4 linked regions of the Homo sapiens genome follow. The protein of the gene in region 2 interacts with the protein of the main gene of each other region in a pairwise test. Each region holds a gene or a part of one and is shown on either strand. Other genes may lie near its edges. The genes, in order: MIEF1, ARL6IP5, RNF185 and CLN8.

Region 1 (7,031 bases), on a different chromosome or scaffold from region 2:
CTCCTGCAGGGACATGCGGAGTCGTGACTTCTTCAAGTCTACCTGGCCCTTCCTGGCCACTGGCTTGGGCCGGGGCGGGCAGAATGTATCTGCCAAGGCAAGAGAGAGAGGCACGTGAGCTCTGCCCATGCCTGCTCAGTCCACAGCTGCCTCAGCCCCAGAAAGAAGGGCCTGGCATGGAGGGCAAGTGCTGGCACAGTGCCTGGCACAGATGTGCTCAGGAAACATCTGCTGAGTGCAGGAGTGGTACTGAAAGTCCAGAGAGGTCCCAGGAGGGGCAGCAGCCCTTCTCACCTGTGTCGAAGGTGGAGGAGTCTGTGGGAAGGGTCTGCAAGGACCGGCTCAGGCCCGTCTTCATGTCCCTGTTCAGCAGTCGTGGGGAGCCCATCCAGTTGGGTTCTTCCCAGCTCCTTTTCCCCGAATGGCTCAGGCGGGTGGGGCTGGTAGGGGCACTGATCGCCCGATCGTACATCTGAAATAGCAGAGAGGACACAGGACATAAACCTGCCCTCTTTCCCTATTTCCTTCCAATTTACTTCCTCCCCAGAAGCTCTGTCCTAGTAAGTTCTTTTAGTAATTTTGTTTTTATTTTAGATTATAGAATACTTTGCTCCACGCAGAAAATCTCAGGGAAGACTACATGATATAAGACATAGATAATCCACGTCATGACCCAGAGAAAACTGTTTGTAATATCTGGTATGTTTCTTTCTAGATGCATGTAATGACGATCACTCTATACATACTTTTGAAACCTGTTTTTTTCACTTATCATTGCGATCATTTCCTCCTAGAACGCTTCGACATTTTCTTTCTATAAAACATTACATCTTATGACCATACCACTACATTCCACCCCCAGCCCTGGCTGCATGCACTTACCCGCTTAACTGCCAGCGTGGCGATGCCCAGCATGGCCGCTCCACCCACCCCCAGCACCAGCCGGGCATTGGAGAGCACAAAGTCAATGGCCGTGCCAATGCCATTGTCATCCTTCTTGCCTTTGCGCTCACCAGCGCCTGCCATTGCTCATCTGAGAATGAAGACAGAACACGGCCATAAGTACTGGGACCCCAAGAACCTCCCTCCCCTAACAAGCCAAACCCCAACAAGTACAGGGTACTCTGTGAGTTCCAGCAACCCAAATCTTCTTGCCTCCAGCACTGCATGCTTTAGGGTCTGGAGGGAGCTACAATGTCCCATGATAGATCAGGATGCAAGGAGGAGGGGCTGATCTTGGGTATTGTAGGAAAACTTTCCCCAAGCTAGTGAGATTAAGAAAGCATTAAGCTCAGTGTCAGTCCTTTTTTGTATTACAATGAAGTACCCCACCATGCAAAACAGCCCTCTCTCTGCCCCTTTACAATGTTAAAATGCAGGTCTCTACCCCTTCACAATGTTATAATGCAGGTCTCTACCCCTTCACAGGGGTTATAATGCAGGTCTCTACCCCTTCACAGGGGTTATAAAGCAGGTCTCTACCCCTTCACAGGGGTTATAATGCAGGTCTCTACCCCTTCACAGGGGTTATAATGCAGGTCTCTCTACCCCTTCACAGAGGTTATAAAGCAGGTCTCTCTACCCCATCACAGGGGTTATAATGCAGGTCATTTCTTCGTCCTTTGGCCACTACTTTGTGGAAGGTTAGATCTGAGCGGGACCTTGGAGCTCATCTAATGCCATCACATCACCTCACACAGAGGTTCTCAACATAGGGAGGTGATGTGTCAGGTCTCAGAGAAAAGAAATGGTACAGGCGCAGTGGCTCATGCCTATAATCCTAGCTACCCGGGAGGCTGAGGTGGGAAGATCGCTTGTGGCCAGAAGTTCAAGACCAACCTGAGCAACATGGCAAGACCCCCATCTCCAAAAGTAAAAGATAAAAATAAATTGAGCATGGTGGCACATGCCTGTAGTCCTATCTACTTAGGAGGCTGAGGCAGGAGGAATGCTTGAGCCCAGGAGTTTGAGGCTACAGTGAGCTATGATCACGCCACTGCACTCTAGCCTCAGTGACAGAGTGAGACCCCATCTCTTAAAAATAAAAATAAAAAAACAAAATGGGCCGGGCACGGTGACTCACGCCTGTAATCCCAGCACTTTGGGAGGCCGAGGCAGGCGGATCACCTGAGATCAGGAGTTCAAGACAAGCCTGGCCAACATGGAGAAACCCCGTCACTACTAAAAATATAAAATTAGCCAGATGTGACAGCGCATGCCTGTAATCCCAGCTTCTCAGGAGGCTGAGACAGGAGAATCCCTTGAACCCGGAAGGCGGAGGTTGCAGTGAGCCGAGATCACACGATTGCACTCTAGCCTGGGTAACAAGAGCTAAACTCCGTCTCAAAAACGAAAACAAAACGACACAGTCATCTCCAGAACTCAGGACTCCCCACTCCTTGTATGACGCTTTTTCTACTGTACCATGCTCACCCTTACCCAAATCAAATCGGCCCTTATTCTATCTACTTTCTGCAAACAAAACACAAAACAACATGTACCAAACATCCTGCACACGGAACTGAAACTACACGTCCATATGTGAGAAAGGTCCCTCCATGGACCCTCCTACTTGACAAATGCTTTGTTTCTTGAGAGAAGTGCGCAGCGGGGACTATAAAAGCTTAGGTGAGACTGGTATACCGGGAGATAAAAAACACAAAGGACACTGCAGACTCGACTGCTAACTGGAAAACAAAACACCCATCTGCTCGATTACACCTGGAAGAGGAACTAAAAATGTGTTCACCTGAAAGAAGTACTTGGGCACCACAGCGAAGAGGCTGGCCTCCAGTGCAGTGCTCAGGCCAGTGCTGCTCCCGACTACAGTGGAGTCTTCCTGACTGCAGCAGCAGCAGTCCCCAGATAAGCCCATTCCTGTGGAGTTAGAACCCTGGGCCTGAGCCGGATAAAGGATGACAGTGTGATTCAGATCGGAATACCACTCAGCATGCTGCCACTCTCCTCTATAATATCCCGTGTCCTTCACACCAGGAATGACATAAGGGAAAACAAAGTCGGATACCATTTAGCGTCCCAGAATGGGAGGACATCAAGAGACAGGATCAGCCGGGCGCGGTGGCTCACACCTGTAATCCCAGCACTTTGGGAGGCCAAGGTGGGTGGATCACGAGGTCGGAAGTTCAAGACCAGCCTGGCCAACATAGTGAAACCCCATCTCTACTAAAAATACAAAAAATTAGCCAGGCATGATGGTGCATGCCTGTAATCCCAGCTACTCGGGAGGCCAAGGCAGGAGAATCACCATTGCACTCCAGCCTGGGTGACAGAGCAAGACTCCGTCTTGAAGAAAAAAAAAAAAGGATCACTGAGGATTATCTTCCATGTAAAATAACATTCCTTCTAATACCGTGTTACAAGTGGATATTTCTAGCTTCCACATCTTACGCTCCTGCCTCTACCTCCCTGAAAAACAAAGAAATATTTCTGACTCTATTATTCCAGTAATTGAGTTAACTAAGAGTCACTGTCAAGCCCAAAAATATTTTTTTCCCTAACTAGAGTTCACACCTTGGGGGTACTTTCCTTTTCTCTACCATTTACAGTCAATAGAGGCTTCAGGTTTAGGGACATGAAAGACTATTTCGCCAAACCGAGTACATTCCCACCTCAAATGCACAGAGCAAAGCCAGGGAGAAGAGATAACGTTTGTATTTACAGGTGGAATCAGGGAAGAACAGCAGACACCCTCTCTCCAGTGGCCACTGAGATAGAGACGGGACAAACCAAACTTAGCAGAGGCAAGATAACCCAATCAGGAGAAAAGCAGAACACTATACATTTCCCCACACATAACAATGTCTCTTGTTTTAACTCTTTACTGAAATATTTACAATAGGGAGAGCCACTGGACACATGTGCCCTCTAAATGATCCTTGAGTGTGATGCAGCAGGGCCAGAAGGGCACCTCCTCACTCAGGGCAGAAGCAGCCTCCCTGGACCATTTTAGTCCTTGGTGCCCTTCTGATGACTGGTGAGAGCAAGGTGGTGCTACAGATGACAGAACAGAGCGTGGGTTTTAGAGTCAGAAATCCTGAGATACAGAACTTGCCTTGAGCCCTGACTTATTAGCTGGGTGACCTCAAATGAGTTACTTAACACCTCAGCTACGAAAAGGGGATAATGGTCCCCGCGTGGGACCAAATCACAGGGTTGTAGTGAGGAAAAACCATTCACTGCAATCCTGTATGTGAACGGTATAAACTGTATTGCAGTGGATGGTCTATAAACTGTAAAAGTGCTCCACAAATGAGTTCTCCTCTAGTCTTTTAAGATTTCCATCCACAGGACAAAGGTCAGCTTCCAGAAGTCAGTCAGCAACCCAGACTGTCCTCTGAGTGACAGTGCACCTTTTGAGACTGCTCTAAAACGGCCTTGAAAATTCGCAGTGATGCCATCTTGGACTTGAGATCAAAACTATTTTTTCTTTTTTTTTGAGACTGAGTATCACTCTGTCACCCAGGCTGGAGTATAGTGGGGCAATCCCGGCTCACTGCAACCTCCACCTCCCAGGTTCAAGTGATTCTCCTGCTTCAGCCTCCCTAGTAGCTGGGATTACAGGCATGAGCCACCACACCCTGCTAATTTTTTGTATTTTCAGTAGAGACAGGGTTTCACCATGTTGGCCAGGCTGGTCTCGAACTCCTGACTTCAGGTGATCTGCCCACCCTGGCCTCTCAAAGTGCTGGGATTACAGGCGTGAGCCAACAGCTGAGATCAAAACTATTAAGTTGGGCCAGCTTGTTAAGCCTTTTCGGCCGGGTACGGTGGCTCACGCCTGTAATCCCAACACTTTGGGAGGCCAAGGTGGGCAGATCACGAGGTCAGGAGATCGAGACCATCCTGGCTAACACGGTGAACCTCTGTCTCTACTAAAAACACAAAAAATTAGCCAGGTGTGGTGGCAGGCGCCTGTAGTCCCAGCTACTCGGGAGGCCGAGGCAGGAGAATCGCTTGAAGTCGGGAGGCAGAGGTTGCAGTGAGCCAAGATTGCACCCACTGCACTCCAGCCTGGGTGACAGAGCAAGACTCCATCTCAAGAAAAAAAGGCTTTTCCTACTGTAGTGCAATAGGCACCCCCCGCCCACCATCCAAGGACGGACTGACATCACAGACCTGGTGACCTGGAACAGAAGACGGCATCCACAAGCTCAACAGACAGACACGGACCTTACTTGAAAAGTTAATTCAACTTGTTCCAGTTTAAACTGCTTCTCCATGACACGCTCTCCACTCAGGTTCTGCTGCATAAGCTTACAGCCTACTAGCAGGTAAGAACTCCACCTCCAATCGGGACTGTCATGAAGGAACCCCATTGCTTAATGGGTACAGAGTTTCAGATGTGCCAGATGAAAAGGGTTCTGGGGCTCTGTTACCCAACAATGTGAATATACTTACTACTACTGAACTGTACACTTTAAAATGGTTAAGATGGTTAAAATAAAAAACAAAGAAGGAACACAGACCTGGTGGGCAGAACTAGGGATGGAGAATTTCAGCTCTGCCAATATTTCAGGCAAGTTATTTAACCTGTCTCGCTAGATACAAAAATGGGAACAGAAATGCTCATCACCCTAATATAGTTAAGGATGATGAATAATGGAGGCCTTGCGGCTTCCTAGGATGACAGCACAGAAGTGTGAAAGTTCCAACTTATTTTAATTGAAAAAGCCATAGGCCTTTTTATAAACCTATCTTGCTTGAGTATGTACGAGACTAGGTAGCAGATATTGAGTGTGTATTATGTGCTGGCAATTTTACACTTATTATTAATTCCCTCAATCCTCACAACAACAATCCCATGAGATCAGTAATATTATCCCAAATTTAAAGGATGAAGAAACTGAGTAGTTTCTGTAACTGACCCAAGGTCACTGTGTCAGTAAAGTATGTGACCAAGATTTGAACCCTGAGATCACGCGGTGCGGAGAACTAATCTACAGGGGTCCTAGGTACTTGCTCCACACCTTGTTCCCATCTCCACTCCATTAACCCCCAGACCATATGCTTCTGGGGGACATTTGGGCTCATTCACTGCTGCATCCCCAGGGTGTGCAGTGTTTGATGCATAGGGAGTATATGTTGTGGGAATGAAGTATTAACTCTACGGCGTTTTGTTTCTTGGTTTTTTTGAGGGGGTAGTGATAGCAGCGTGTAGCCCAACTCACAGCCAAAATATATTAGGAACACAAAGATTTCAAGGAACGCCCTAATTCCCTCCTAGATCCGCTAGCCAACCCTCCCTGTGCAGACAGGCTCCCATGGGCATCACCCCACCCCTGGCCCTGTACTGCCAAAGGCAGATATGCCAATCCTAAGTGGCTGAGAAGAACCAAAAGTCATTACATAAGGCTCTCTTCCTACTTTCCCTCCCCCAGTTAAAAGCAGCACCCTCCACCCAGCTGGCAGGCCTTACACCCAGTTACTCTTCATCTTTCTCTCTCCTCCTCCTGCCTCAGCCAACTGATCACCAAGTCCCACTGCTGTACACACTGTGTTTATATGTGGCCACCCCCACCCCTCGGTCCCTCAATCTGATCTGGCTACATCCACTGCCTCTAGTATCTCTCATCAATTTATTCTTCACACTGCCACTGGTATGCTCCCTCTACGATACAAATGTGGCTATGTCATTCCTCTGTTTACAGAGCTGTGATGGTCCCCACATAAGAAGATATACATTACAATCTCAACTTGGAGTCAACGTCCTTCCAGACCAGGCCCAGCCTCAACTCTGGCTATTTGCCTTACAGGGGTACCATGCTGGCCACATCAGACTTAAGTTTCCAGACTACAAAGTGCAGTTTCTGGACAGGCAGAGCTGTTTGAACCTATAATCCCAAAGCTTTGGGAGGCAAGGGTGGGAGGATCGCTTGAGGCTAAGAGTTTGAAAGCAGCCTGGGCAACATAGCAAGACCGTCTCTACAAAAAAAATAAATAAATAAAAAATTAGCTGAGCACATTGGTACATGCCTGGCGTCCCAGCTACTCAGGAGGCTGAGAAGGGAGGA
Region 2 (4,687 bases):
AGAAGAAAAGATGATCCAATTTCATAGCTTATGGCCTCAATACACAGGTTTTGCCAAAAGAGGTGAAGCAGTTCACATTATGCTTTTTCTACCACCCAACCCTAAAGATCTTAGTTGCAGATTTTAGCTTGTTTTTAAATGTAATCATAATTTACAACATTTATATGTTACATTTTTCTGTTATTACCCTTCCAGAATTGACTACTGGCCATTAGTAATTACAGGTATCTTTTTTTTTATTAGTTTCTCCAAATTTATTGGATTTTATCGGCAGAATTCACCTTGTAGAAAATGGAATGGGCTAACATGTATATAAAACTGGGCTAACATGTATATAAAACTCGTGCCAGGTTTAAAAATAGGATCCCACTGGAATTGTTTTATTCTGGCTGCAAGTTAATAAAGTATTCAAGCTTTACTAAACAGTATTTGAAACAGCTGAAGTGTTTGCTTCACTGTTTATAGGGTCGTCGCCAAGTTTCTCAGGTATTTAAGACAGATGTGCATTAAATAAAGTCTCACCAAAAAAACCTTTAATCAATTTTATTCTTCATATGTGGGTAAGGGTACAGATTCTAGACCATGTCTGTGAAGTCATGGTGATATCACTGTGCTAAAGATCATGGCTGTAGGTTGGCTGAGAATTTAAAATGCAAGAAAAATCAGAAGCAGCACATCATTGCTTCTTATTCTAGGACATACAGAGAGTTTCTTCAGTAAGTACCACTCCAGTTGTCTTCACAATTTAATGCTACAGAAACCTAAATGTTTCTACTTCAGCTACGAAATCATTCAATTGGCAGGCAAAACATTTTTTATTACCTATTTATAAAAACATGAGAAAGGGAGGAAAAATAATAGAATGTATAAACTCATGCTATCATAATTCTAATGTCTAGCTATAAAGGCATATGGTTGTAACAATTGCTATCTAAAATTTTTTATTAGCTGCAGTAGCTGCATTCCATTTTCATTACCATTTTTTAAAGTCTTTTTGCTTGGTCATCTAAAGACGTTTTTCAAATTTCAAAAGATCAGCTATTATTGTCCTCCTTGTGCCCCTAAGGAATTAATAAAATGCACATTCATTTCCTTCTTTCTAAATGTTCCAGTTAAAAACGAAACAATGCAAAAATGGCAAACATTTTCTTGGACCATTTTTTTCACTGTAACAACAAAAAATGTGCAAGGTAAATAGAACTCAAGTTTTGTTTTATTTTTTGTCTGTTTGTATTTTAATAAGTCCGTCCAGAATAATACAGGTTACATAGCTGTAACCATCTTAAGGAAAATGACATTAAGTTTGCAACAAATACTTGCTGGTGAAAACACATTACTAGCATTTCAAAAATTTACAAAAATGTAACAAAATATCCTAAACAGCTATCTTTATATTTGTAAAGGAAGTATGAACAACTGGCTTAACCAGTTTCCACTGCACATCAAACAGGTGGCAAAGTGATAGAGATCATCTTTGATTTTTAAGAGAATAATAAAAACTAATTTATATCCCACACATTACAATTCTAGGGGATTAGGAACAGGCTAACACATGATGTCATCTACTTTAACAGCCTTTTCATTTACTCGTATTGTCTTGATACTTTACAATGATTTTTTTTTTCCTATAAGATAATCGTATTGTTGCTGTAAAAGCCGTAATTCTTTTATTTTTTTTAATTCCCTTAAAGAAATCGTGTGATCCATTTCCCATTAGATTTCATAAACACACGTGAAACTTCAGACACAATAGGAGGGTGGTGGTTTTCTTTCGGTTTCTGAGGTCTTCTCTCTGAAACATCAGAGCTGATAATAGTTCGGCCTATACATGCATGCTGCCATAGATAATTGGGTGGTACGTGCACCTCCTGTTTCAAAAACGCAAGCAGAACATAGGTCTGGACAAGGGCAAGCTGCAACTCAATTTCTGCTGCAACCCTAGCTCAGGTAAGTTATGTTTATTCCTTCACTTTGCTGATATAGTCAGTGAGTCTGTTGATGCCTTCTTCCTGCTGTTCTAGGGCATCCAGGACAATGCCCATCGGTGTCCTCTTCAAACCTATTCCTTCCATTTTATTCTCCAGTTTGTTCTTGAGGTTCCGAAGTCTCAACGATGCATGGATAAACATCACTGCAGAGAAGGGACACCTGGTTAACACCAAAGCAACAATTCTCTTTTGCCATATCAATATTACACTCCCTCTCTTCACACTATTAGTAAACTGCCTTAGTTAGCCACAGTCCAGTCTGCTTCTCGAATTGATGCAAGCTTTCAAATGGCTCCTTGGACTTTATGTAAAGCTCTCCATCAAGTCATACATAGTTTTTTTTCTGCATTAAAGGAAAATGCTGTATTCAACAGGAAGGACCATTATCTGGAAGCCACACCCTTTCCTTCACACACTGATATCATCACCTTGCAGATGCTACTTAAATGTCCTGAAATTCAGAGTGAATCAACGGGATTCCATCCTACTTAAAAATCAACTTACCCGAGGCTTTCCAGAAAAGAACTCTTGCTCGATTCGGGATTATCTGTATCTTGTTCCCTGCAGGAGCACGTGAGTAAAGTCCACTTTTAAAGTGCCTCCCGGAGGCTTTACCCAAAGTGTTGGGTATAGAATTCTAGATGTAAAAATCTAAGGGCTTTACAGAGTTTCTATAGCCTACCGTTCCCCAAACTTGCTTGATTATTTTACCACAGATTCCCTATCCCCTTTCCTGGACCTCCTCCACCTGAGCCTTAAAGAGACAGGCCTGGGAATCTGTATTTTAAACAGGTAACCCTCTCTCCATATGATCTATACCAGTGGTTTTACAACTTCCATGTACATTCAAATCACCTGGAGAGCCTGTTAAATAGGCAAATTCCTGGTCTCCATCACCCCAAATTCAGACTGTTACAACTGAGGGAAGGCTCCAGAATTCATTATTTTAATAATCACTCCAGATGATTCTGATGTAGGTGGATCTTGGACCCTTATTTTGAAAAACCCTGATGTGGATTCATCTGGAGGATCTCAACCTAGACCACCCGTTAGAAATAGTTGACGAGCTTTCTAAAAACCTAACATCCTTGGGTACCACTGTTGACCCACAAAATAAAGATGTGGCTGGGAAATGTATATTTTTAAAAAGTATCCTGAATGCTTGTCACAATTATCCGTTTGGGAATCACTTATCTAATCTCCTTACTTTAGAGATGAGTGAACTACAGCCCATATAGGATGACTGGTCCAAATCACATGCTGGTTTCCAGCAGGTCTAAGAATAGAAATCAGGACTCTTAACTGTCTACCTCTGATACATTTCGTTACACTGGCCTGTCTCAGGTTCTGATGTGGAAAGGTATTAAAATTAGCAAGCTGTTTGATTAAACAGTATCATTGAAATACTAAGCGTTAAGCACCTACAGAAAACCTGAAGAAAATTCCAAAAATGTGTGAATTTGTTGGCTCAGATATTTTATCCAATAGGGTATGGGATGTATCCATAAATATTCTGGACTTAATCTAACAAAGCCCTAAACAAGCAAATAATTTCATTTAGTGGAATAAGTGCACATGTCAAATGTTATTGAAAGTTAAAGGGATGTGCCTGTCACTTAATATACTAGAATTTTAATCAGATTTCTGCTGATTAGGCTGGGATTTTATTTCTTGTCTATTTCAGGCTTCAAGTGTTTGGAGTCTTAGTAAATAATTCATGTAAAACTTAGAGAATATCTAGATCTCTTCACCAGAATCTGAGTATTTAGTACCTATATTCTGAGCCAATTATTCCTATAGACTTACCAAACTTTTAACACTAGTTATGATCTCCTGAGCAAGTGGAGAATAAATAGTCTACTTCCAAATAATAAATACATTCATTCCTGTGTCAGGACAATAGGAATGGCACTTAAAAATTGAGAATAGACTCTCTTATTAGACAAATCTGGAGTCTAGTGCAGGTTATGCCACATTCCTGCTGTATGACCTGGGATTTGTCTTTGTTCTGTTTACTGTTGTGTCCCCATAAGAATGTATGGCACACAGCTGGGCGAAGTGGCTCACGCCTGTAATCCCAGCACTTGGGGAGTCCAAGGAAGCTAGATCACTCAAGCTTGGGAGTCCGAGATCAGCCTGGGCAACATAGTAAAACCCCGGTCTCTACCCAAAACACAAAAAATTAGCTGGGTGTGCACCTGTGGTCCCAGCTATTCAGGAGGCAGAGGTTGCAGTAAGCCGAGATAACACCACAGCGTGGGTGACAGAGTAGACCCCATCTCAACAACAACAAAAGAATGTATGACACATAGCAGATGCCCCAACAAATATTTGTGGAATTAATGAACTATAAGGCCTTGACCTCATAGTTCTTGACCTCAGTTCTGTGTTATCTGGGTCTAGTTGGATAACAAGTAGAAAGCTGTTTTAGAAAATTCTGACACTTTTGCTGACATGCCAACACATATAAGAAATGGGTTATGGAATTCCCGTTGGATAATTGCTTCTACATTTTTTTGATGATGGAAGAAAAAACTCAAGTTCACTTACACAGCAAAGGAAAAGTAATGCCAAACACAAAGACCATGACTCCTCCAAACATGGAGATAAGGAAATAGCTCGCCAACATGACCACCATAACGAACGTCGTGGGGTAGCGCTTCTTCATCCGGCGAAGGACGTCTTTATTGTGGGCTGCC
Region 3 (7,031 bases), on a different chromosome or scaffold from region 2:
CCAAAATTAAATTTTAAAGCAAACAGAATGGTGATGGCTACATAAAAATACATATGCACAGCCTACAGATGAAGAGAACATGAGGATATGAGAATATACTTGTTCTGGGCTCTTGGCAATGGTGGGTAAATATTTTGCTTTTAAAATTTCTTTAACATTTTAACAGAATTTTTTTAAGAGTAACATTTGATGTAAATATGCAAAAAATGTAAATGTTTTTGTTCCTAGCCACTAGACCACTAGAGACAAATGTGCAATTTTTTTTTAGCCAGTAATCTTACTTCTAAGAATTTATCCTAAGCCAGGTACAGTGGTTCACGCCTGTAATCCTAACACTTTGGGAGGCTGAGGTGGGAGGATTGCTTGAGCCCAGGAGTTAGAGACCAGCCTGGGCAACATAGTGAGACCTTGTTTCTACCCAAACAAAACAAAACAAAAAAAAGAAAGACAAAAAAAAACTCAAAAAACTAGCTGGGCATGGTGCCGTGCACCTGTGGTCCCAGCTACATGGGAGGCTGAGGTAGACTGAGCCCAGGAGGTCGAGGCTACAGTGAACTGTGATCACACCACTGCACTCCAGCCTGGGCTACAGAGTGAGACCCTGTCTTATCCTAATAAAATAATAATGAACATGCTCACAAATTTATCTGTAAGTTCATCAGGATTTTTTTTAACTTGGAAAAAGAAAGCCGCTAATGTCTAACAAAGGATTGAATTATGTTAAATCCACACAACTAAATGCTAAACAGCTAGTTAGTAAAATATTGCTGGCAATGTAAAATCTCAAGATAATACTAAAAGACTCCCACTCACACAAAGAAGGTACTAAGTATCTGTAGAACAAATGAAATTTTAAGAGAGGGTTACAAAACAGGAGCCACATATTGTAAAAAACAAAAAACAAAAACTGTAAAAAGTATACACACATCTGTAAAATACACGCACAGATTTGTAAAATTTGTGTGTATATATAATTATAGAAAAATGGAAAAGAAAATAGAACCAAAATGTTTCCAGTGGTTACCTCTGGATTGGTGTGGTTATAAGTGATTTTTTTCCCCCTCTTTTCCTTTCTGTATTTTACAAGTTTTCCTTTACTTTTATAATCAAGGAGAAAAATTGTAAGGCTAAGAAGGAAACTTCTAAAGCCATCAGCTCATTTGTAGAAGCTTCTCCTAGAATGTTCCTCACCCCTCTATTCTCCGGCTCTGGCCTCTGTCCTTGAGGACGAGGAGGGGTCTTCTCTCTGAAACAGAAATGGTGTAAAATAAGTCTATTACAAATTGCTTTGAGTTGCTCCCTGTGAGGACCTGGAGCTCTTTACCAACAGGGTCAGGGCCATAGCCTCTTTCTTGTCCAGGACATGAACTTATGCCAGATTAATTCTCCAAATACGAACTCTTCATTCTACCTGCAACTGTTCTTCCCACGTGTATAGAGAACCAGGGAGAAAATCAACTCGTTATGAGATATTCACCAGATTGCACTACAGCCTACTCCTCTTACAGAGATCCTGACTCAGATCGGTTAGGAATCATGGCCAGATGCCTTCCCTGGGCCTGTTACAGATAACAGAAATCCCAAATCCATACTGGAACAGAGGGTGGGTTGTCAGCAGTAAGGGCTGAGGTTCATGGTTTCTCTGACCTTCCCCTATTAACTTCAGCTCTATCTCCTACTATTCTTGGGCAAATACCCAATGCTATTATTTTTGAGTCTCACCCCCTCAAATCACTCAACCCATGAATACTCAATTGAGGGCTTAGTTATACAATAAGCATTATGCAGGATGCTGTAATACTGATGACAGACCCAACCCTTGAAGTGTTCATGGTTTCAAGGGGGATAAAGCCAGTCATATGACACTGTGGTGGGAACTGGGTGAGAGCAACTAATGTGAAGAAGACAGACCACTTCAAGGAAGAGGGAACTTTAGGGCTGCTCATAAGAGATGAGTAGAAGTTAGAGGAGCAGGTGGGGGTAGAGGGGTAGCTTGAGCAGGACTGGGGAGGGAAGAAGGCAGAAGAGAGAGCAAATACACAGGCTGATAAATGTGAAAGAGCAAGTCCCTTTAAGAGAAAGTCTAATATGTCGGGTACACAGCATATGCTAGGGTAGCTGGATAAAGGTAAGAGATTCTTCTGGAGAGCTTGGGGATGCCAGACCATGAAGGGCTCTCAATACTTGTGTTTGTTGAATGCTGGACCCATGCACATCTCCATTTCTAGAAATCCCAAACTCCACAAAGTCACCCAGATCCTGTTTCCCCTCCCGCCATGCTTTATACATCACTGATGCAGCAACCCTGCTCCCTGGAGCCTCTCCTGCTACATATCCTGCTTCCCAGGTTGCAGAAATGCTCTTTCACAGGGCTCTGCACACTTGTGATTGTGATGTCTGTTCACTGCTGGGTCCTAGCAAGTGGCAACTTGGATCCCCTCTCTTCCCTCCCCTCCTAGCTGACTCTCATCTGGATGAGACTGCTTCGAAACCAAGAGATCATCTAGTACTAAGTAAAGGGTGGGGTTAGGGGATGCTGAATGGGAGTGAATTCACATCCAAGGGGAGAAGTGGTTGGGAGAGGCATCCTGAGTCCTCACCTGGGGTCCTGTTGCCCAGTGCTGCCCCTTCCATAGAGGGGGATGACCTTGTCTCGGCTGATGCCAGCTTTGCAAACAGGACACACCTGTCTGTTAGGTCTGGTCTCCAACCACTGCAAACAGGAGAGAAAAATGCATGTGGATGGCCCAAGACCCACCAGAGTGATCAGCCAGAGCCACCAGAACAACACAGGCCAGAGGCCTCAAACTGGGAAACACCAGCATGAGCAGGGAACATCTCAAGGAACCTGACTCCCATTCCTTCTCCTACCATTCAGCAAATACCTACCAGTGGTAAAATCAAAATTGCCTTTAAATATCATCATAATTGGCCGGGTGCGGTGCTCATGCCTGTAATCCCAGCGCTTTGGGAGGCGGAGGTGGGTGGATCACCTGAGGTCAGGAGTTCAAGAGAAGCCTGGCCAACAAGGTGAAACCCCGTCTCTACTAAAAATACAAAAATTAGCCAGACATGGTGGCGCATGCCTGTAGTTCCAGCTACTCGGGAGGCTGAGGGAGGAGAATCGCTTGAACCCGGGAGGCGGAGGTTGCAGTGAGCCGAGATTGCACCACTGCATTCCAGCCTGGGCAACAGAGCAAGACTCTGTCTCAAAAAAAAGAAAAAAAATCATCACAATTAGGCTTCTTCATGCTTTGTTTCTCTCTAGGGCCTCCTAGCAACACAGGGGGAGGGAAACTGCAAGTCTGGGGCTGTCAAGTCTGACATGCCCAGCCTCAATTTAGGCTGCTGGTGTAAGTACAGCAAACTTTAAATCCCCACCTTCCCAGTAGGAGCAACTGTATTTTCCTGTCAGTCATATTCTTCTTTCTGTGATTTCTCATTTTTTTTTCCCCAGACAGAGTCTTGCTCTGTCACCCAGGCTGGAGTGTAGTGGCATGATCTCAGGTCACTGCAACCCCTGCCTCCTGGGTTCAAGCAATTCTCCTGTCTCAGCCTTCCAAGTAGCTGGGATTACAGGCGCCCACCACTGCGCCCAGCTAATTTTTGTATTTTTAGTAGAGACAGGGTTTCACCATGTTGGCCAGGCTGGTCTCAAACTCCTGACCTCGTGATCTTCCTCCCTTGGTCTGCCAAAGTGCTGGGATCACAGGCATGAGCCACCGCGCCCGGCCAATTTCTCATTTTTATAGCATTTTCCCAACAACTGTGTATCCCAGGCATCAGAATCAGGAGATAAGCTGATCATTTTCTGGTGACTTACCACATGCTAAAGGATAGGTTTTGCTCATTATCTAAATTTGCTTAATGCTTTTTGTGTACTTTCATTGATTTTTTGCATTCACCTATTTCTTTCAATATAAAAAAAATCCCGTTTTGGGTTTCTCAGGCCCTTTCACTGGTTACATTAAAATTTTTTGTTTAGGCCAGGCGCGGTGGCTCACGCTTGTAATCCCAGCACTTTGGGAAGCTGAGGCGGGTGGATCACCTGAGGTCAGCAGTTCAAGACCAGCGTGGGGAACATGGTGAAACTCCGTTGTCTCTACTAAAAAGACAAAAAAACTAGCCGGGTGTGGTGGTGTGCACCTGTAATCCCAGCTACCCAGGAGGCTGAGGCACAAGAATCGCTTGAACCCGGGAGGCGGAGGTTCCAGTGAGCCGAGATCTCACCATTGCACTCTAGCCTGGGCGACAGAATGAGACTGTCTCAAAAAAAAAAAAAAATTAATTTTCTTAAAAAAACAAGTGATAAAAAATGTTTTTGGTTTGTTTTTGTTTGTTTTTTGCTTGTTTTTGATTTTTTTTTCGGTTTTTTGGTTTTTTTTCTCGAAACAGAGTCTCACTATGTCACCCAGGCTGGAGTGCAGTGGTGCAATCTCAGCTCACTGCAACCTCTGCCTCCCAGATTCAAGCGATTCTCGTGCCTCAGCCTCCCTAGTAGCTCGGACTATAGGCGTGCACCACCACGCCCAGCTAATTTTTATATTTTTTGTAGAGACGGGGTTTTGCCATATTGGCCAGGCTGTTCTCAAACTCCTTGCCTCAAGTGATCCACCTGCCTTGGCCTCCCTACGTGCTGGAATTATAGGTGTGAGCCACCACACCCGGCCAAAATGTGTTTTTATAGACATTCTATAAACATGAATCTAGGACTTCAGGGCTGAGGAGATGGCAGCACTGAATGATTTTATTTACTACTCTTACTGTTCATAGCTCCAAAACTTAATGTGTTATGTGTTCTTCATAAACTCATAGTCAATATGTACTACCAGGTCCCGCTGGGGACAGAATGTGCAGCCCTGTTCCCACCTTCTTTCTCCCATCCAGATTCTGAAGCTTTAGCAGTCTGGAACTTCTGTCCTCCCCCACATTCCCAGGCCACCTACGAGTGTGGTACTCTACTGCTGACGACCAGGGAGACTTTCAGCAGGCTGTGATTATTCACAGCCACTTGTGAATGCCAGGCCCAGCTCTGTCTCACCAAGTAGGTGCTAAAGCTAGGAAAATAGACTTTTCTCTCCTCACAAAAGCTCTTTGTTGACACCAAAAAAATTTTCCCCTTCCTAATATTTTCATAACCTTTAAGGGCTGGGGGACTGTTGATATGATAGGAGGCACTGTTTTAATAGAAGCAGAATCTCAAAAATAAAAAGGACCTAACTAACATACTATCAATCCAATCCAATTTATAAATGAGTAACTGAGATCCAAAAAGGCCCTCTGTGGCAGAATTAGGACCATCCCGATTTCATCAAGTGTCTGTCAGTGGACAGGTATGTAAAGAAGGCTGTGGGGGTAAGTAAGCAAATGAGCCCACAAGCAGGGCAGATTGCAGCTTCTGAAAGCAGTCTCCTGAGACTAGGGCTCTCTTGTGCAACCAGAGCTGATGAAAGACAAAGTAAAATGAAATGCATCTTACCTGATGTAAACACGGCCAACTGCCAGAGTCCCCAGGGCAACCAGTCATCAAGGAGAAGGAGAAAAGGGGAAAGGAAGAAAAATGTTTTCATTAGCAGAAACACTTGATGGGTGGAGTGGTAGTAGCAGAATGAGAAAACAGGAGTAAACTATGGAGCACTGCATGCCCATTGAGGTTCTGTAGGGATTACTGGTATCGGAAATTAAAAAAAAACTGGGGTAAAAATCACAGAAAATAAATAACGCAATGGAGATAAGACCCCAGCCTCTGCCCCTGAGATCTCAGTATATGTGAAATCCCCAGGGCTCAGACCACACAGACCCAGCTTCTCTACAAATCACCCTGTGAGAGGTTACAACATCTGAAGGAATCCAATAAAAGCTAAGGACACCCTGTGCAAAAAATTGATGGGGGCATTCACATACACATGTACTACACACTATTTTACACTCAATTTCAGTGGGTTCATAGTCTCCTCGGGCTCACAAGGGATGTGTGGACTCTCAGGTAGTCCAGATCCAGTTTAACAAAATCTTCAGGCTGTCCTCATCCTTGAGAACTCTCCTAGCAGGAAGCAGCTTAAAAGTTCAGGTCTACTCTAAAAGCATCTTTAAGTAATAGAAAGGATGGGGATGCTACTTGACAGAAAGGGTTACCTTCAGCTTAGAGAGCTGCTGTCCAATCTCTCTCCATTTTCAAATGAGGAAACCAAAGCTCAGAAACATAAAATGAACTGCATCAGGATTAAAAAAAAAAGTCTCCTGACTTCTAGTTCATTGCCCTTTCTATAATCTAACACCACATACAAAAAAAAAATGATATCTACAGAATTGAAAGAAAAGTATTCAACTCCACTTTTTTTTTTTTTTTTTTTTGAGACGAAGTTTTGTTCTTGTTGCCCAAGCTGGAGTGCAGCTCACTCAGCTCACTGCAACCTCCACCTCCCAGGTTCAAGCGATTCTCCTGTCTCAGCCTCCTGAGTAGCTGGGATTATAGGTGTGTGCCACCACGCCCAGCTAATTTTTTGTATTTTTAGCAGAAACGGGGTTTCACCGTGTTAGTCAGGCTGGTCTCAAACTCCTGACCTCAGGTGATCCGCCCACCTTGGCCTCCCAAAGTGCTGGGATTAAAGGTGTGAGCCACCGTGTCTGGCCCACATTTTTAATTTCTTTCTCTCGTTTATTTAGTTAACACATATCTACTGTGTACCTACTATGTAGGCCAGGACAGTGGAAAATGCAGGCATGGCTTCTGTACCTCACATACCAAGTATCTTTAGCTGAGTACACTTTGAACTCAAAGGATAGTTCCTTTTCCAATTCCTGAACCACAGTTTAGCTTCACAAACCAAATACACAATCTTCCTGGCCATAACATCTGACTCCAACATTAATCTTGCAATGTCATTCTAAACTGAGTGGAGAATAACCCCAAATCATGGCAGATCTCCACTGGCAAGTTCCCTTAAAGACTCTAGGGGAGAAGTGGAGGTGAATGAATGACCCTCAGGGGAAAGTCAGGCTTTATAACAACGACCATTCCTCCCATTTAT
Region 4 (7,684 bases), on a different chromosome or scaffold from region 2:
CAACCTTAAGATCTCTGCTTTGACGTTAATGCAGGTCAGCTGTGCCTGGATTTCAACGGAAGGCGGGTATAAGGAGCCTGTCCCACCCCCACTTCCCATCACGGTCTGAACTAGTCTCTAAGGTTTACTTTGGAAAGCTCGTGGCTAACGGGGTTGGCGGGGGACTAGAATTTTATTTTTGTTTTACAGTCTCAAAGGAATCGCGATAGGTGCAGGGGCCACTGCAGTGGGACTAGGCTCAACTCTGAGTGTAAGAAGAAAAACGGGAATGTACAGCCACGGAGAGGGTGAGAACGGACGGAAAACTATGAAGAGGCTACATCAGGCCAGGGGGGTTCTTGCTAGAACCACTTGGTAGGATTCGTGCCACAGGCAGGCCAGGTGATAAGATACCGAGGGTGAGGGATGAGGAGTATGATATCAGGGGCGGGGAACTGTCACTGCATTGACCCAGCAGGATTCTTTTGGACGAAAGGGGACAGGGGTCCAGGTCAGAGCCTTGAGGGCTTCGAGGACCCTGCCTGGAGTTAGGTCAGGTAGAGTCTTTGCCACATTGAGGCTGAGAAGCTGAGCAGCTGATCTGCGGGAGTCCAGAGACCCTCATGCTTCCTGCAGATGTGCTGTCAGCAGATCCTGAACTTGGGTTCCAGTGTTTTAAAGTGTTGTTTGCAAGCACCGCGGTCCTGCTCTCCCACTCACAGAACTACTATTGCTCACTGGTGAAGGACACTGGATTTAAAATCACAGACGTTCTTTTTCGCCTCTCGCTCATTATACATCCCTTTGAGGACACCGTCATTTTGCTGTTTAGGAGGAAGAAACAGGCAGAAGAGAACTCCTCCCATCCCTCCGCTAATGGCTTTTAAAACAGTCTTTTTTGTAATGGAACAACCAAACCTCACAATGAGCGTATATTGCTTGTGTGACCAGAAAGTAAGACAGTCCCCTGACACCTCAATTAAGTCATTTTGGTTGTCTACTCCAGACACCTCATGGCATCGTACTTCAAAATTCAGCTTTGTCATTTAGCAGTGTGTGGAGGTGCACACATTGCTAACCTCAGGCTCACTGAACACTGTTTTTTTTCTATGACGTGGATAATGGTGCCTGCGTCAGACACCTGTGATGTTTGAAAGAACCAGTTTATCAAAGTGCTTAGCCTGACGCCTGACACGCTGTGCACCCAAGATAAATGTTTGTTGTGTCATTCGATCTGTCGAGGAAGGAGGTGAGACACTTGTGGGTGGCAGGGCGGGAGGGGAGTACACAGGCTGTAAACAGCAGTGCCCAAGCTGAGACGGAGCAAGCTGGGAATCCGCCCGGGTTTCATTCAGTGTTCCACACCCCGCATGGATACTGGTTATACCTGTGATCAGTTATGCCTGTGATGGTTTTTTAGAAAACAAAACTATTTTATCACTCTGCTTTAAAGATGGCCGAGTGGAAAGACACAGTCCTGGAATGTTTAAATTCAAGCTGAAGAGCTTACTAGCCACGTGACTGAGCAAGTTATGGTTCCATCTTTCTAAGCCTCACTTCATTCTTTGTTAAGACAGGCCTCAGCATGCTGTTAGTAGGAATCTAAGGAACCCAGTGCTGATGGAGAAAGGGGTCCAGTCCAGACCCTAAGAGAGAGTTCTCGGATCTTGCGCAGGGAGGAACTCAAGGCAGTCGCAGAGTGCAGTGAGAGACAGCTGCTCTGATACAGAGTGGGGAGCCCGCGGAAAGCAGGAAGAAGAATGTGCCATCTTTGTTTCAAAGGCATCTTGTATCAATGTAAAAGCCAAGCTACGTGTAAGTGCAGGTGGGCTGGCAGTGTGACAAGATCTAGTACTTGGTGGATGTAAATAACGTTATCCTTGGCATTTCAGTGCGTAACTACATCTAAGCATGACTATAGCCATCTTTTTTTTTTTTTTTTTTTTTTTTTGAGATGGAGTCTTGCTCTGTTGCCCAGGCTGGAGTGCAGTGGCATGATCTCGGCTCACTGCAACCTCCGCCTCCCAGGTTCAGGCAATTCTCCTGCCTCAGCCTCCCACGTAGCTGGGATTACAGGCTACTGTAACTGCCAATCAGGTTCATGTTGCCTACACAGAGCTGATTTATCCAAACAGGTGAACTGCATAGAGAAAGAATAATCCACACAGAGCTGGCTGTGCGGGAGACCAGAGTTTTATTATTACTCAAATCAATTTCCCCAAGAATTCGGAGTTCAGAGTTTTTGCTGTTGTTTTTGAGATGGAGTCTTGCTCTGTTGCCCAGGCTGGAGTGCAGTGGTGCGATTTCAGCACACTGCAACCTCCGCCTTCAGGGTTCAAGCAATTCTCCTGCCTCAGGCTCCCAAGTAGTTGGCATTACAGGCGTGCACCACCACGCCTGGCTAATTTTTGTATTTTTAGTAGAGACGGGGTTTTGCCATGTTGGCCAGGCTGGTCTTGAACTTCTGACCTCAAGTGATCCGCCTGCCTCGGCCTCCCAGAGTCCTGGGATTACAGGTGTGAGCCACCGTGCCCAGCCCTGGAGTTCAGAGTTTTTAAGGATAATTTGGTAGGTAGGGGGCCAGTAAGCTGGGAGCACTGAGGGGTCAGATCAGAGATGAAATCGTATGGATCAAAGCTGTCCTCTTGGCCTGAGCCGGTTGCTGAGTGCGGGCCACAAGATCAGATGAGCCAGTTTATCCATCTGGATGGTCCCAGCTAATTCAGCAAGTGCAAGGTCTGCAAAATATCTCAAGCACTGTTGTTAGGTTTTTCAATAGTGATGTTATCCCCAGGAGCAATTTAGGGAGGGTCAGAATCTTGTAATCTCCAGCTGCATGAATTCTAAACCATAATTTCTAATCTTGTGGCTAATTTGTTAGTCCTACAAAGGCAGTCTAGTCTCCAGACAAGAAAAGGATTTGTTTCGGGAAACCATAAACTAAGTTTCTTCCAAAGTTAGTTTGGCCTACACCCAGGAATGAACAAGGACAGTTTGGAGGTTAAAAGTAGGATGGAGTTGGTTAGGTCAGATCTCTCACTGTCTCAGTTATAATTTTGCAATGGTGGTTTCACTGGTTTTAAGATGGAGTTTATTTTATTTTATTTTTATTTTTTTGAGACAGAGTTTCATTCTTGTTGCCCAGGCTAGAGTGCCATGGCGTGATCTCAGCTCACTGCAACCTCTGCCTCCTGGGTTCAAGCAATTCTGCTTCAGCCTCCTGAGTAGCTGAGATTACAGGTGCCCACCACCACACCCGGCTAATTTTTTTCTCCCAAACTGCTGGGATTACAGGCTTGAGCCACCGCGCCCGCCAAGATGGGTTGTTGATTTTAAAACGATGTCACCCTGGCTCTCCTAGGTTCCTGTTCCCCTAACATCATGAAGGCTGCTGGCAGTTCTCTGGCCTCCAGGGAGGCCTCCACACACATTTACCCATGTTCTTAGACAATCCTAGGGACTCAAGGCTTCAACAAACCTAAATGAGCCAGCAGAAAAATAAACTTGAACATGAATGTCAACGTTTTCCCACATGTACTAAAGGGTTATAATAATTTTGAAATGTTTATTTCAAAGAGCGTTGGTAATTTAAACGTCCTATTTAATCCCCAAAACAGTCCTGAGGGGGAGATAAGGCAGTTATCTTCATAGTACAGGAAAGGAAAAAAGCGAGGGTCCAAGGCCGACTATACCCTCAGCTCCATTAGCCCCCGAGGCCTCCCTGACAGGCGGGGCGGACAATCCCAGTGCAGATGCTCTGTATCGATCGCATGCTATCGGTTCTTTCAAGGAACGTGTATTGATCATCAATTAAGTGGTGAGTACTCCTCTAGATGTCGATTCTAAAGAGGGAACAAAACACATTAGACAGAAGAAACATAAGTAACTCGAATAACAACCTTAGAGAGAAGAAACATAAGTAACTCGAATAACAACCTTAGCAAACTGCGGAAACTCCTACAGACAAAAACTCAGGTGTGGGCGCAGAAGGGCCGGGGATGCGCTCGGTCAAGACTTGAAGGTCCGGGGCTTGGGCCCTGTGTCCTCACCGAGCCCCGGGGAGGCTCCGGCTCCGTCCACACCCGGAGCGCGACTCAGCCGCGGCCGGGGCTCTTCTGGAGAACGGCGCGGTCAGGCTCTGCCGCAGCTTTCAGGTCCCCTCGGCCCCGTCCGGGTGCAGCGCAACCAGGCTGCCCGCGGAGCCCCACCGCCCCCATGCCGCCGCCCGCCATGGTTCAGCCCGGCCCCGCCCCTCCCGCCGGCCGTGGTTCAGCGCGTCCACCCCGCCGCCCCACAGCGCCCGCCGCGCCGCGCCCCGCCCCCCGCCGCGCCCCGCCCCCCGCCGCGCCCCGCCCCCCGCCGCGCCCCGCCCCCCGCCGCGCCCCGCCCCCCGCCGCGCCCCGCCCCCCGCCGCGCCCCGCCCCCCGCCGCGCCCCGCCCCCCGCCGCGCCCCGCCCCCCGCCGCGCCCCGCCCCCCGCCGCGCCCCGCCCCCCGCCGCGCCCCGCCCCCCGCCGCGCCCCGCCCCCCGCGCCGCGCCCCGCCCCCCGCCGCGCCCCTCCCGCGCCCGCCGCCCCGCCCCTCCCGCGCCCGCCGCCGTCGTAGCGCCTAGGCGGGGCCTCTCGTAGCGACGCCCCCAGGGGGGCAGAACGCGTGCGCACGCGCGTGCGAACGCGCGTGCGCGGGCGGTGTTTGAGGCCGGCCAGTCGTGACTGGGCGGCAATGAGGTCAGTGACTGCCGGGAGTCCTGCAGGGGCGGGGCGGCGCCAAGCGCAGGGAGCCCGGCTGAGTGGCAGCCCAGGTGAGCGCTCAGGGAGCCCGGGTGAGGGCCGGGAACCCAGGTGAGGGGCAGCCCAGGTGAGCGCGCGGGGTGCCCGGGTTAGGGGCCGGGAACCCAGGTGAGGGGCAGCCCAGGTGAGCGCGCGTGGAGCCCAGGCGAGGGGGCTGGGAAGCCCGGGTGAGGGGACCGGGGATCCCAGGTGAGGGGCCGGGAACTCAGCTGAGGGGGAACCCAGATGGGCGCGCGGGAGCCCACGTGAGGGGGAGCCCGGGTGAGGGGCCGGGGTGGCTCCTGGCGTCCGCGGTCCCAGCCCTGCCTTCCGGTGGGCGTGCGGCACCCCGGGCCGTGCGGTTCCCGGACAGCAGCTTGTGGGGGACTTTCGAGCCCCGCAGCCCGGGGTCCTGCCTGCGCGGGTTGGGCGTGGGGGGCTCCTCACCGCGACGCTGACTTTGGAGTCCTTGAGCGGCGCGGATGCCGGACGGAGGGAGGGGACAGGCGGAGGCGGAGGCGGCGCCGTCGCCCCTGACCTCGCTTCCCTCAGACCGGCTGGGCAAGTACGGTCAGCTCACCTGTGTGCCCACGAGGCGGGGAGGCGGCTCCTGCAGAGCCACAGAGGTGCCGTCGGAGCTGCTGTCAAGGACAGCAGGTGTCACGTGGGTGTGGCCTCCACTGGTCACCGAGTTAGCTGGGGCGGAAGGGGACAAGGTGCAGCTCAACATGGTGTGGGAGGCGGAGGGACGCTGGGTCAGTCAGAACCTGTAGGAGCGGGGAGGGACGCTGGGTAAGGTCACCAAAGTGTGCGGGGGAGAGAGCGGGCGCTGGGTCAGGTCAGCAGGAGGTGGGACCCGCCTGGGCTCTGGGCCCTATAGCCAGCTGCTCTAGGTTGGGGTTGGGTGTGGACAGTAGGGAGGGGAGCCAGGGGCTCCCCAGCCTGTGTAGATTCTGCTGTAAGTGACTCTTCTCTGAAAGACTGGCGCGAGGCGGCTGCTTCTGACTCCTGTTTCAGTTTACCCTCTGTGTGAAATCTGTAACTATCCAGCTTCTGCTTACCTCACTCCCGTATTTTGATTTTTATTTACATACAACTTTTCAGGAAGGTTGTGAGAGGAAAGAGCAATGGTGCAGGAAGTGTGAGTGATTGAGGGAATATGAGATGGCCACAGCTCCCCACTGAGCTTGAACACTTCTGTGCCTCACTTTCAGATTGGCCGTCATGGAGGCTGTGGTTGTTAAGGAAGTTCTTCCTGAGCATCCAGTTTCCATACAAAGAGCACAGGTTCTCTAGGTGGCCTCAGAGATGTTCAATACACAATGTCTTCTGATAACGAGGAACTGGGCAAAAGCCTGGTAGGACACCGGGTAGGTAAATGGTGGAGTCCCTGCAACCGTGTTGCAGAGGAGGATTAGCTGTTGCTGAGAGAAGAGAAGCAGGCCGGGGAGCAGCTTGTATACTGTTATCCCCTTTTATGTAAAAAGAAGAGTTTATATCTAGAAAAACAATTGACCCAGCAGGCACCAAAAAATAGTGATGGTGCTTGGAGCTGTGTAAGAGGATTGTAAATTTTTATTTTTGTATTTTTATGCTTGTTTATATTTTCTGAATTTTGTGTATTAAACATGTATTTCTGTTGATTTTGGAAAACATTTTTACAACCCATCAATGTATAATTTTCAAAATGTTAGAAGTATAATTCTCATGTAAATAGCTCTTGTCAGGTTATATTTCAGTCATTAATGCAGTATACAGCAGGATAGGAATGTCAGTTCAAAAGAGAATACACAAAACTAGGATTTTCTTAGTGAGTGGGTAACAGGAATGCTGAGAGAAGATTGCCAGATTAGATAATAAGATTGGTGAATATCCTGTGTGCATTGAAACCACAGCCTTTGGGATTGTCTTTTCTTCTTGATGGAAAGGAGAATTAGCTTTGCAGATTGTAAAATGCGTGACCCACAATCAGTGGTAAATAGTTTAGTTATTTCTCCTAGAAAGTCAAGTGATTGTTGGGGTTGTAAAACACTGAACTTGCGTTAGCAGGGAAAAAAGCATGCAACCTTTTTTTTCCCTTTTGACGTCACTTCCAAGTTTGGATAAATTATCTCAATGAAAAACAAAAATGCTGGTATCCATAGCAGTTTAGCCCCCATAAACCGGAGGAGCGCATAGATGCATGACAGAGTCGAAGGGTTCCAGTGGCCACTGAGCCTGGTTCCTGGTCACACTGCAGCAACAGAGCTAACACTCTTACTGATGTGTTTGCATTCAGATTTTTAAAAAACTTCATGGCCCAGTGCAATAGAAGAGCTGAAACCACAGAATCTTATAAGACAAGCTTTTTGTATACATTTTCTCCAAAGAAAATGAAGATCTGCAGCGTCAAGAGATGGTGGCCTTCCAGGAGTTGTTTATTCTCCGGCTCCACTTCCTCTACTGCAGAGAGGAAAGGGGCTGGTGTGGAAGGGCTTGGAAGCCTTCCAGAATGAAAGAACCAGATGAGTCCATTAGGTTCGGCCTCCAGTTTTTTGTTTTTTTTTTTTTTTTTGAGACGGAGCCTCACTCTGTCACCCAGGCTGGAGTGCAGTGGCGCTATCTCAGCTCACTGCACGTTCCGCCTTCCAGGTTCCCGCCATTCTCCTGCCTCAGCCTCCCGAGTAGCTGGGACTACAGGCGCTCGCCATCACGCCTGGCTATTTTTTTTTTGTATTTTAGTAGAGACAAGGTTTCACCATGTTAGCCAGGATGGTCTCGATCTCCTGACCTCGTGATCCTCCCACCTTGGGCTCCCAAAGTGCTGGGATTACAGGTGTGAGCCACCCTGCCCGGCCGATTCGGCCTCCAGTTTTACCCATGGAAGGAACAGTGACTTCCAGCTGTGCATTACACTTAAGGACTCCTTCATGTGGCCTGAGCCTTATGGTGCACAGCA

The links.
Region 1: the proteins of ARL6IP5 (region 2) and MIEF1 interact in binary tests that used the Homo sapiens proteins (3 or more experiments, as listed by UniProt).
Region 3: the proteins of ARL6IP5 (region 2) and RNF185 interact in binary tests that used the Homo sapiens proteins (3 or more experiments, as listed by UniProt).
Region 4: the proteins of ARL6IP5 (region 2) and CLN8 interact in a two-hybrid assay, tested with the Homo sapiens proteins (one study listed by BioGRID).

The regions. Positions count from the first base shown.
Region 1 is NC_000022.11:39,505,290-39,512,320, reverse strand, and holds part of MIEF1 (mitochondrial dynamics protein MIEF1), read right to left. Parts: intron 2,900-7,031; exon of another isoform or gene 2,750-2,899; intron 1,034-2,749; 5' UTR 1,027-1,033; coding exon 883-1,026; intron 473-882; coding exon 295-472; intron 90-294; coding exon 1-89. UniProt on the Homo sapiens protein: Mitochondrial outer membrane protein which regulates mitochondrial fission/fusion dynamics.
Region 2 is NC_000003.12:69,101,908-69,106,594, reverse strand, and holds the end of ARL6IP5 (PRA1 family protein 3), read right to left. Parts: coding exon 4,539-4,687; intron 2,132-4,538; coding exon 1,959-2,131; 3' UTR 503-1,958; downstream 1-502. UniProt on the Homo sapiens protein: Regulates intracellular concentrations of taurine and glutamate. Negatively modulates SLC1A1/EAAC1 glutamate transport activity by decreasing its affinity for glutamate in a PKC activity-dependent manner.
Region 3 is NC_000022.11:31,191,151-31,198,181, reverse strand, and holds part of RNF185 (E3 ubiquitin-protein ligase RNF185), read right to left. Parts: intron 5,499-7,031; coding exon 5,480-5,498; intron 2,714-5,479; coding exon 2,601-2,713; intron 1,247-2,600; coding exon 1,192-1,246; exon of another isoform or gene 1,025-1,191; intron 1-1,024. UniProt on the Homo sapiens protein: E3 ubiquitin-protein ligase that regulates selective mitochondrial autophagy by mediating 'Lys-63'-linked polyubiquitination of BNIP1.
Region 4 is NC_000008.11:1,759,108-1,766,791, forward strand, and holds the start of CLN8 (protein CLN8), read left to right. Parts: upstream 1-4,681; 5' UTR 4,682-4,778; exon of another isoform or gene 4,779-4,891; intron 4,892-5,326; exon of another isoform or gene 5,327-5,477; intron 5,478-7,684. UniProt on the Homo sapiens protein: Could play a role in cell proliferation during neuronal differentiation and in protection against cell death.